Regions from separate parts of the Homo sapiens genome. Here region 1 is linked to region 2. Evidence: fine-mapped QTL for protein levels in blood plasma. A gene starts in region 2. The other region holds a variant in brackets. All regions are shown on one strand. Distances are from middle to middle.

What was found. A credible set is the group of variants that fine-mapping cannot tell apart. PIP is the posterior inclusion probability: the model's chance that the variant is causal. The UK Biobank Pharma Proteomics Project read protein levels with antibody pairs (Olink). The fine-mapping took linkage between variants from a reference panel, not from the people measured, so its PIPs are less certain.
Region 1: its variant is the best candidate, but not a certain one, in a credible set for the plasma level of the AHNAK2 protein (UK Biobank, PIP 0.65). The variant lies in the coding sequence of AHNAK2. If it changes the protein, the assay may bind it differently, which can mimic a change of level.

What each region holds. Positions count from the first base shown.
Region 1 is chr14:104,948,148-104,953,368 of GRCh38, reverse strand. It overlaps AHNAK2 (AHNAK nucleoprotein 2), which reads left to right. Exons shown (of 7, transcript NM_138420.4): 7 at 1-5,221. Among named protein-coding and RNA genes, the nearest start is that of PLD4, 26 kb to the right of the region's middle. The variant C/T (reference allele first, on the strand shown) is at 2,108.
Region 2 is chr14:104,975,629-104,980,849 of GRCh38, reverse strand. It overlaps AHNAK2 (AHNAK nucleoprotein 2), which reads left to right and starts at 2,476. Exons shown (of 7, transcript NM_138420.4): 1 at 2,476-2,667. The coding sequence starts at 2,613. RefSeq lists silencers at 2,333-2,492, 4,599-4,818 and an enhancer at 5,019-5,098.

The DNA.
Region 1 (5,221 bases), 27 kb after region 2:
GAGGCCTCGGTGGATGTGTCTGCGCCGAAGGTGGAGGCCGACGTGAGCCTCCTCTCCATGCAGGGGGACCTCAAGACCACTGACCTCAGCGTCCAGACCCCTTCCGCTGACCTGGAGGTCCAGGATGGCCAAGTGGATGTGAAACTTCCGGAGGGCCCCCTGCCCGAGGGAGCCAGCCTCAAAGGGCACCTGCCCAAGGTGCAGAGGCCCAGTTTGAAGATGCCCAAAGTGGACCTCAAGGGCCCCAAGCTGGACCTGAAAGGCCCCAAGGCGGAAGTGACAGCCCCCGATGTGAAGATGTCTCTGTCCAGCATGGAGGTGGACGTCCAGGCCCCGAGAGCAAAGCTGGATGGTGCGCGGCTGGAGGGGGACCTGTCCCTGGCCGACAAGGAGGTGACTGCCAAAGACAGCAAGTTCAAAATGCCCAAGTTCAAGATGCCATCATTCGGGGTGTCGGCCCCAGGCAAGTCCATGGAGGACTCGGTGGATGTGTCTGCGCCGAAGGTGGAGGCCGACGTGAGCCTCTCCTCCATGCAGGGGGACCTCAAGGCCACTGACCTCAGCATTCAGCCCCCTTCCGCTGACCTGGAGGTCCAGGCTGGCCAAGTGGATGTGAAACTTCCGGAGGGCCCTGTGCCCGAGGGAGCCGGCCCCAAAGTGCACCTGCCCAAAGTGGAGATGCCCAGTTTCAAGATGCCCAAAGTGGACCTCAAGGGCCCCCAGATAGATGTTAAGGGCCCCAAGCTGGACCTGAAAGGCCCCAAGGCGGAAGTGACAGCCCCCGATGGCGAGGTGTCTCTGCCCAGCATGGAGGTGGATGTCCAGGCCCAGAAGGCCAAGCTGGATGGTGCGTGGCTGGAGGGGGACCTGTCCCTGGCCGACAAGGACGTGACTGCCAAAGACAGCAAGTTCAAAATGCCCAAGTTCAAGATGCCGTCGTTCGGGGTATCGGCCCCAGGGAAGTCCATCAAGGCCTTGGTGGATGTGTCTGCACCCAAGGTGGAGGCCGACCTGAGTCTCCCCTCCATGCAGGGGGACCTGAAGACCACTGACCTCAGCATTCAGCCTGCTTCTACTGACCTGAAGGTCCAGGCTGACCAGGTGGATGTGAAGCTCCCGGAGGGCCACCTGCCCGAGGGAGCTGGCCTTAAAGGGCACTTGCCCAAGGTGGAGATGCCCAGTTTCAAGATGCCCAAAGTGGCCCTCAAGGGCCCCCAGGTGGACGTCAAGGGCCCCAAGCTGGACCTGAAAAGCCCCAAGGCGGAAGTCACAGCCCCTGATGTGGAGGTGTCTCTGCCCAGCGTGGAGGTGGACGTCGAGGCCCCGGGAGCCAAGCTGGACAGTGCGCGGCTGGAGGGGGAACTGTCCCTGGCCGACAAGGATGTGACTGCCAAAGACAGCAGGTTCAAAATGCCCAAGTTCAAGATGCCATCGTTCGGGGCGTCAGCCCCAGGCAAGTCCATCGAGGCCTCGGTGGATGTGTCTGCACCCAAAGTGGAGGCCGACGTGAGTCTCCCCTCCATGCAGGGGGACCTCAAGACCACTGACCTCAGCATTCAGCCCCCTTCCGCTGACCTGGAGGTCCACGCTGGCCAGGTGGACGTGAAGCTCCTGGAGGGCCACGTGCCTGAGGGAGCCGGCTTCAAAGGGCACCTGCCCAAGGTGCAGATGCCTAGTTTGAAGATGCCCAAAGTGGACCTCAAGGGCCCCCAGGTGGAAGTCAGGGGCCCCAAGCTGGACCTGAAAGGTCATAAGGCAGAGGTGACGGCCCACGAAGTGGCTGTGTCTCTGCCCAGTGTGGAGGTGGACATGCAGGCCCCGGGAGCCAAGTTGGATGGCGCACAGCTGGACGGGGACCTGTCCCTGGCTGACAAGGACGTGACTGCCAAAGACAGCAAGTTCAAAATGCCCAAGTTCAAGATGCCGTCGTTCGGGGTGTCTGCCCCAGGCAAGTCCATTGAGGCCTCCGTGGACCTGTCTGCACCCAAGGTGGAGGCCGACATGAGCCTCCCCTCCATGCAGGGGGACCTCAAGACCACTGACCTCAGCATTCAGCCCCCTTCCACTGACCTGGAGCTCCAGGCTGGCCAATTGGACGTGAAACTCC[C/T]AGAGGGCCCCGTGCCCGAGGGAGCCGGCCTCAAAGGGCACCTGCCCAAGCTGCAGATGCCCAGTTTCAAGGTGCCCAAAGTGGACCTCAAGGGCCCTGAAATAGACATCAAGGGCCCCAAGCTGGACCTAAAAGACCCCAAGGTGGAAGTGACAGCCCCTGATGTGGAGGTTTCTCTGCCCAGCGTGGAGGTGGATGTCGAGGCCCCAGGAGCCAAGCTGGATGGTGGACGGCTGGAGGAGGACATGTCCCTGGCCGACAAGGACTTGACTACCAAAGACAGCAAGTTCAAAATGCCCAAGTTCAAGATGCCGTCGTTCGGGGTGTCTGCCCCAGGCAAGTCCATCGAGGCCTCAGTGGATGTGTCTGCGCCGAAGGTGGAGGCCGACGTGAGCCTCCCCTCCATGCAGGGGGACCTCAAGGCCACTGACCTGAGCATACAGCCCCCTTCTGCTGACCTGGAGGTCCAGGCTGGCCAAGTGGACGTGAAACTCCCAGAGGGCCCTGTGTCCGAGGGAGCCGGCCTCAAAGGGCACCTGCCCAAAGTGCAGATGCCCAGTTTCAAGATGCCCAAAGTGGACCTCAAGGGGCCCCAGATAGATGTTAAGGGCCCCAAGCTGGACCTGAAAGGCCCCAAGGTGGAAGTGACAGCCCCCGATGTGAAGATGTCTCTGTCCAGCATGGAGGTGGACGTCCAGGCCCCGAGAGCAAAGCTGGATGGTGCGCAGCTGGAGGGGGACCTGTCCCTGGCCGACAAGGCGGTGACTGCCAAAGACAGCAAGTTCAAAATGCCCAAGTTCAAGATGCCATCATTTGGGGTGTCGGCCCCAGGCAAGTCCATCGAGGCCTCGGTGGATGTGTCTGAGCCGAAGGTGGAAGCTGATGTGAGCCTCCCCTCCATGCAGGGGGACCTGAAGACCACTGACCTCAGCATTCAGTCCCCTTCCGCCGACCTGGAGGTCCAGGCTGGCCAAGTGAACGTGAAACTCCCGGAGGGCCCCCTTCCCGAGGGAGCCGGCTTCAAAGGGCACCTCCCCAAGGTGCAGATGCCCAGTTTGAAGATGCCCAAAGTGGCCCTCAAGGGCCCCCAGATGGACGTCAAGGGCCCCAAGCTGGACCTGAAAGGCCCCAAGGCGGAGGTGATGGCCCCCGACGTGGAGGTGTCTCTGCCCAGCGTGGAGGTGGACGTCGAGGCTCCAGGAGCCAAGCTGGACAGTGTGCGGCTGGAGGGTGACCTGTCCCTGGCCGACAAGGATGTGACTGCCAAAGACAGCAAGTTCAAAATGCCCAAGTTCAAGATGCCGTCGTTCGGGGTGTCTGCCCCAGGCAAGTCCATCGAGGCCTCGGTGGATGTGTCTGCGCCGAAGGTGGAGGCCGAAGTGAGCCTCCCCTCCATGCAGGGGGACCTCAAGACCACGGACCTCTGCATTCCGCTCCCTTCTGCAGACCTGGTGGTCCAGGCTGGCCAAGTGGACATGAAGCTCCCGGAGGGCCAGGTGCCCGAGGGAGCCGGCCTCAAAGGGCACTTGCCCAAGGTGGATATGCCCAGTTTCAAGATGCCCAAAGTGGACCTCAAGGGCCCCCAGACAGATGTTAAGGGCGCCAAGCTGGACCTGAAAGGCCCCAAGGCGGAAGTGACAGCCCCCGATGTCGAGGTGTCTCTGCCCAGCATGGAGGTGGATGTCCAGGCCCAGAAGGCTAAGCTGGATGGTGCGCGGCTGGAGGGAGACCTGTCCCTGGCCGACAAGGACATGACTGCCAAAGACAGCAAGTTCAAAATGCCCAAATTCAAGATGCCGTCGTTCGGGGTATCGGCCCCAGGGAGGTCCATCGAGGCCTCGGTGGATGTGCCTGCACCCAAGGTGGAGGCCGACGTGAGTCTCCCCTCCATGCAGGGGGACCTGAAGACCACTGACCTCAGCATTCAGCCCCCTTCTGCCGACCTGAAGGTCCAGACTGGCCAGGTGGATGTGAAGCTCCCGGAGGGCCACGTGCCCGAGGGAGCTGGCCTCAAAGGGCACCTGCCCAAGGTGGAGATGCCCAGTTTGAAGATGCCCAAAGTGGACCTCAAGGGCCCCCAGGTGGACATCAAGGGCCCCAAACTGGACCTAAAAGACCCCAAGGTGGAAATGAGAGTCCCCGATGTCGAGGTGTCTCTGCCCAGCATGGAGGTGGACGTCCAGGCCCCAAGAGCCAAGCTGGATAGTGCGCATCTGCAGGGGGACCTGACCCTGGCCAACAAGGACCTGACTACCAAAGACAGCAAGTTCAAAATGCCCAAGTTCAAGATGCCGTCGTTTGGGGTGTCTGCCCCAGGCAAGTCCATCGAGGCCTCGGTGGATGTGTCTCCACCCAAGGTGGAGGCCGACATGAGTCTCCCCTCCATGCAGGGGGACCTCAAGACCACTGACCTCAGCATTCAGCCCCTTTCCGCCGACGTGAAGGTCCAGGCTGGCCAGGTGGACGTGAAACTCCTGGAGGGCCCTGTGCCCGAGGAAGTCGGCCTCAAAGGGCACCTGCCCAAGCTGCAGATGCCCAGTTTCAAGGTGCCCAAAGTGGACCTCAAGGGCCCCGAAATAGACATCAAGGGCCCCAAGCTGGACCTAAAAGACCCCAAGGTGGAAGTGACAGCCCCTGATGTGGAGGTGTCTCTGCCCAGCGTGGAGGTGGACGTCAAGGCCCCAGGAGCCAAGCTGGATGGTGCGCGGCTGGAGGGGGACATGTCCCTGGCCGACAAGGACGTGACTGCCAAAGACAGCAAGTTCAAAATGCCCAAGTTCAAGATGCTGTCGTTTGGGGTGTCTGCCCTTGGCAAGTCCATCGAGGCCTCAGCGGATGTGTCTGCGTTGAAGGTGGAGGCCGACGTGAGCCTCCCCTCCATGCAGGGGGACCTCAAGACCACTGACCTCAGCGTTCAGCCCCCTTCCGCTGACCTGGAGGTCCAGGCTGGCCAAGTGGATGTGAAACTCCCAGAGGGCCCCGTGCCGGAGGGAGCCGGCCTCAAAGGGCACCTGCCCAAGCTGCAGATGCCCAGTTTCAAGATGCCCAAAGTAGATCTCAAGGGCCCCCAGATAGATGTCAAGGGCCCCAAGCTGGACCTGAAAGGCCCCAAGA
Region 2 (5,221 bases):
GTCAAGGGCACACACCTAAAGGGGCTGAGGACACAAAGGTGGGTGAGTGCCCTGAGCGGCCCCTCGTTCCCAGGCCCTGCAGCCAGACTCAGACACAGAGGACTAGCGGGCGAAACCCCAGCAGACCAGGCAGAGGCATAGACACATCCAGGGACACACACAGAGGTGTATGCACCCAGGCACCCTAGTGGCTCTCTCCCTGTGTCCAGGGAGTGACTGACTCCAGGTGACCAGAGCAGGGTGGGCTCCTGGGGAGGGAGGTAAGTGCAGGGCCTCTGGACCCCAGGCAACACTGCTCAGCCCCGAAAAAAGGACACTGCGAGGGGGTGGGGTAAGACCTGCGCCAGGTCCCCACACGAGGGAGAAGGTTGTGCCCATCATGCCTGGGCTCACTGGCAGGAGGCTGCCAGGGCCTCTTCCCAGCAGTGGCTCTGGCGTCCATCTGACCTGCTGCTGGATGGCTGCCCGGTGGCTGCAGCGCGGCTAACGGGAACTGTCTAGGGTGAGTCATCGTGCCCGGGTGGCTCACCTGGGCCCGCTAGCTGTGCGTGGTCTCCAAATGAGCCCAGGAATGCGTGTGCCCCTGTGTGTATGTATACACGTGCATGGGTCTGTATCCTGGTGTGGGTGTTCATGCATGCAGGCCTGAGTGTATCAAATATCTCAGGTGGCCTGTGTCTGTGTCTTGGTGAGTTTGTGATCTTATCTATGAGTGTGTGTGTCTGCCTGGCCCTTCCGGTACAGCCTGGCCTCTTCCCACCCCAGGAAAAGGTGTCCGTGTGTGTGTGTGTGTGTGTGTGTGTATGACAGAGCATGTGTGTTTGTGTCTCTATGTGTATGTGTCTGTGTGTCTCTGTGTGTGTGTCTGTGTGTGTGTGAGTGTGCCTCTATGTGTACCTGTGTATCTCTGTGTCTGTGTCTCTGTCCATGTGTGTCTGTGTGTCTCTGTGTGTGTCTGTGTGTGCCTCTGTGTGTGTGTCTGTATGTGTACCTGTGTATCTGTGTGTCTGTGTCTCTGTCCGTGTGTGTCTGTGTGTCTCTGTGTCTTTATCTCTGTATGTATGTATGTGTGTGTGTATCCGTATGTGTGTCCGTGTGTGTGTGTGTCCCTGCATCTGACCCACACCCCTGGACATTGCCAGGCAGCTCCTCATGGAGGTGGCGGTCCTCTCCTGGGTCTCTTCCAGCCCTGCCTTCCCCGACAATCCCTGCAGAACTCCACTCCTTCTGGGGTATGCCCGGTTTGGGTCTACACCAGGCCAGGCGTCACCAAACTCTTAGAACTCCCTTGGGCCCCTGCCCTCCCTGTCCACACCCCCAGGTGTGCTGCCTCTGTGTGGTGCCCAAGCTAGATCCCAGGGAGGCTCCCACCCTCTGCACTCTGATCCTCACCAAGTCCCCTCTGCCTGCATATCCTTTCACTCCCTCCCATACCATGGCCGTGGTTCCACTGCTCCTGTTTCCAGCTGTGCCCCATGCCAACACCCCTAGCCACCTGCGCAGTCTTTCCTCAGCTCTCACCACGCTCAGAGACCCTGCTTGGAGCCTTAAGTGGCACCTCCTACCGACAGGAGCCCCCTCAGCCTCCTTGCTGCCCTGCCCCCGCCCACTGGGCCTGACTTTCAACCCCAGCCCTTTTGCCCCCATTCTCTGCACACACGCTACTCTGTCCCCTCTCTCCAGAACGCTTCCTACACTGCCTGGCACATGTCTCACCCCTAAGGTCCCAGCTTACACTGCCAGGAGCCCTCCAGGACCTCCGTTCCCCCGCCCCCAGGGCAGTGCCGCCCTGCAGAACGCCTCATCCTTACAGGCTTGCTTGTGTCTACGCCAGACCTGGAGCCCCTGGGGCAGGGCCAGTGGGGTGCTGGTTGCCGCTGTGTCCTAGGCCCTAGGCTCTTGACAAGAATCAGCAGAAAGGATGACTCTGGGCGGGGTTCTGGCTCCAGGACTGCCCCCAGCGCTGGGCGCTCCCGCACGCGGCGCCCACCCCGCAGCCCTGCCCGGGGCGCCCTGTTCCCGCTGCACGCTCTCAGCCGCGTCCTCGTATCTGCCACCCACCAGCCCCTGCAGAATTCTATCTTGTCCTTATGCTGCCAGATCACCTCCTGCGGTGCCCGCGACCCCTGTTGTCCCCGCAGGCTGCCCCCCACCCCAGCTTCTGACTAAAGTGTCTGTCTCCCCCGGAATGGGAGGTGAAGACAGCGGCAAGTCCAGGAGCCTCGGTGCGGGGATCCAGAGGTCGCTCCCTGGCGGGAGTCCAAAGTTAATTCTGCGGACGCGACAGGCGGGCCGGGGGCGCGGGGTGGGGCGGGGCCTGGCTGGGAGGGGCGGGGCCGCGGCGACGGCAGCCAATGGGCTGAATGAGGCCGACGGCACCGCCCGCGAGCGCGCTCCGCAGTGGCCCGGCAGGGCTGGGCGGAGCCGGGCGGGGTCCTAGCTGAGCGGCTGGGTAGCCTGGCGCGCGGTGTCCGCAGTCCGAGGTCGGCCGCCCGCGGCAGCGCAGGGCAGCGGGGCAGAGCGCGGCTCCCGCCCGCCCGCCCCGTGCGCCGGAGCCGGGACCAGCGACTGGACGCGACGGGCCGCCAGGCCCGCACCGCCTGGCCGCCGCGATGTGCGACTGCTTCCACATGGTGCTGCCCACCTGGCCCGGAACCCCCGGCAGCGGTGCGCCCCTCCCCGCCTGCAGCCCGCTCCCCTGGGGCGGGTGGGCTACGCGCGAGGGCGCGCGCCGGGGCGTGTCCAGGGGCGCGCAGTGCGGGCCTTGGGGGCGGGGGACTCGGAGACGCCTGCGGGACTCGCGCGTGGTTCTGGGCCTTCCCGGCCGCTGGAGTCTCTTCTCCCATGCCTCGCGTTCTACCTGTCCGTGGCTGTAGGTTCCTGCTCCTCTCCCGGCCTCTGAGACTGTCTCTGTCGCTCACTTTGTTTCTCGGTGGCTGACTCGTCTCTGTCGCTCACTCCCTCTGTCACTCGCGGTCCCTGTCTGTCTCTCCTTCTCGCTCCTGCCCCGCTCCTGGGACGCTGTCTGGTCGAGAGGCGGCCTCCTGGGAGGTGCTACCGCACTCTGGAGCAGGGCTGGTGTCTGCAAGGGGCGTGAAAGCCGGGGCCGCCGGGACCCGGGGCACCTGCACCAGGCTTGCCCTCTCACCTGCTTTGCGGGAGAGCAGCCAGGCTGGTCCAGGAGTCTGGGCTCTCCACTTTGGTCCGGGGCTTCCAGGCAGGGCTGGGCTGCGTCTACTGTGTGGCTGTGTGGTGGGGTCGCTGGCTAGGTGGAGGCTGTGGCAGGGCTAGGCCTGAGGTCTGGGGCCTGGTGAGGGGCCTGAATGGGGTCAAAGTCAGGCCACAGGGTCCCGCAGTGCTGGGCAAGGGAAAGTGGGTGCTACCTACTGGCATGCCCCCAGGGATGGTCAGTAGCCTCCCTCTGAGCCGCAGGCTACGGCATGTGTACCTGCTGCTCTTTGTGTGTCTGTCCCTGCACTGGGCCTGGTTCCGGGGCCTGGGTGTCTCAGCATCTTGGAGGGCAGGGCTGAGGGGGGCAGGGCAGTCCCTTGGGCGCTGGGTCTATGCTGCTGCAGCTGACCACACCCAGGGCATTGGCAGCCACTGGCCAGGGGGTTGGGCTGGCCGGCACTGGTGCAGGCTGGACCCCACTCCTTGGGGAAAACAGGTCAATGCTAATGGTGCCGACAATGCTGCAGGTGAGAGGGGTGCCCCTGGCCTGGGCATGCCCCCCAGCTGCAGCAGGCACTACCAAGGCCCCTCCTGTGGCCTGTCTGTCTGGTGCGCACTTAGGGTGGGAGGCTTGTCTGGGGGGCTCCAGAGCAGGGAGGCCCCTACAGCACCTGCTTCACGGTGTCGCAGATGGGAGCCCAAGGTGTTTGGGCACAGCAGCGGGAGGATGATGGCTCCGGTGGGCTGGAGGCCCCTGGCCCCCTCCTCTTTCACTATGACTGGCCCTGCCCACATGGCTGCAGGTCGACCTCCTCAGAGGGAGAAGGGCAGGGCCCCCAGGCATGGGACCACTACCCTGCCCCCAGCTTCCCTGCACAGCCTTTCTGCTCTGCTTCCTCCTCACTCACGGGCACCCAGAGACTCCCAAGCTGCAGGGTCCAGGACCATCTCATCCACCCCCTGCCTCCACAGAGGCTTGTGCTGGCTTCATGGTTCCCAGCCCGTCTGGGGCAGTCCCTCCCTGTGTCCAGCCTACGGAACCATCCGCTCTTAGGGAATAAGGTCAGTGGCTCTCGCTGGAGCTTTGGTAGGAGACTTGCAAGATCAGAGACCTTGGGAGTTCTGTCCAGCACACCGGTTCCCAGACCCTCCCCAACCCTGCGGCCCAGGAACGTGCATTCCTGACAAGCACCCTGCCAACTACTGCCTTTCCCAGCCTGGATTTGGTCCAGGCCTTTTCCACCTGCAGTTTCCTCTCAGCAGGCTGGAGATGGGCGGACTCTCCCCTGCTCTCGTCTTCCTGTCCAGTCCAAACCTGCCCTCTGCCCGACACACCAGGCACCAGCCCAGCAGGGAGCCATCTCCTGGGCGGCTTTTGTGCCGAGGCTGCCCCCTGGTGGCCATGCTGGGACCACCCCACGCAGCGCTGCCGACTGTAACACCAGCCAGTTCACTCCCAGTGGGCTCTGGGTGTCACACTCTTGCCTACTCCAGGGGCAGGTTGCCTCTTTCCCAGGGGCAGAGCTGGGCCCCTGATAACTGGGGAGACAGGGAACCCCTCCCCGGCCCCGGCCCCCACCCTGCACCTGCTGCCCCGGTGTGGCCTGAGCACCTCCCACGACCCCCCAAGAAAGCACCACCGTGTTGGGAAGGCCCCAGGTGGTGATACCATGCGAAGATGTGTGGGTGGTCTCTTCTCTGCGGTGGGGGTCATGAGATGGCTGGGCCCTTTCCCAAGAAGGGTGCAAAGCAAGGCAGCTGTGGAGGTGGTCTCGCTGTTCTGTGCCTCGCTGGTGCCCTCTTCAGGGCCTCAGGCTGCAAATGTGGGTCAGGACCTCACATTCGGGGTCAGGAGTGATTGCAGCTGCCTGTGCTGCTAGCTCCACGCAGCCAGGGATGCCGAGTGACAGCGCGGGCGGGTCTGTCACCACCCTGGTGTCTCCCTGACTGGGTCATCTACACTGGGGGAGGGCTGTATTCCCATTCTGCAGACAAGGACACTGAGGCTGGGGACAGTGACGCAGTGACTCCCTGGGCTCTTAGGGGCCAG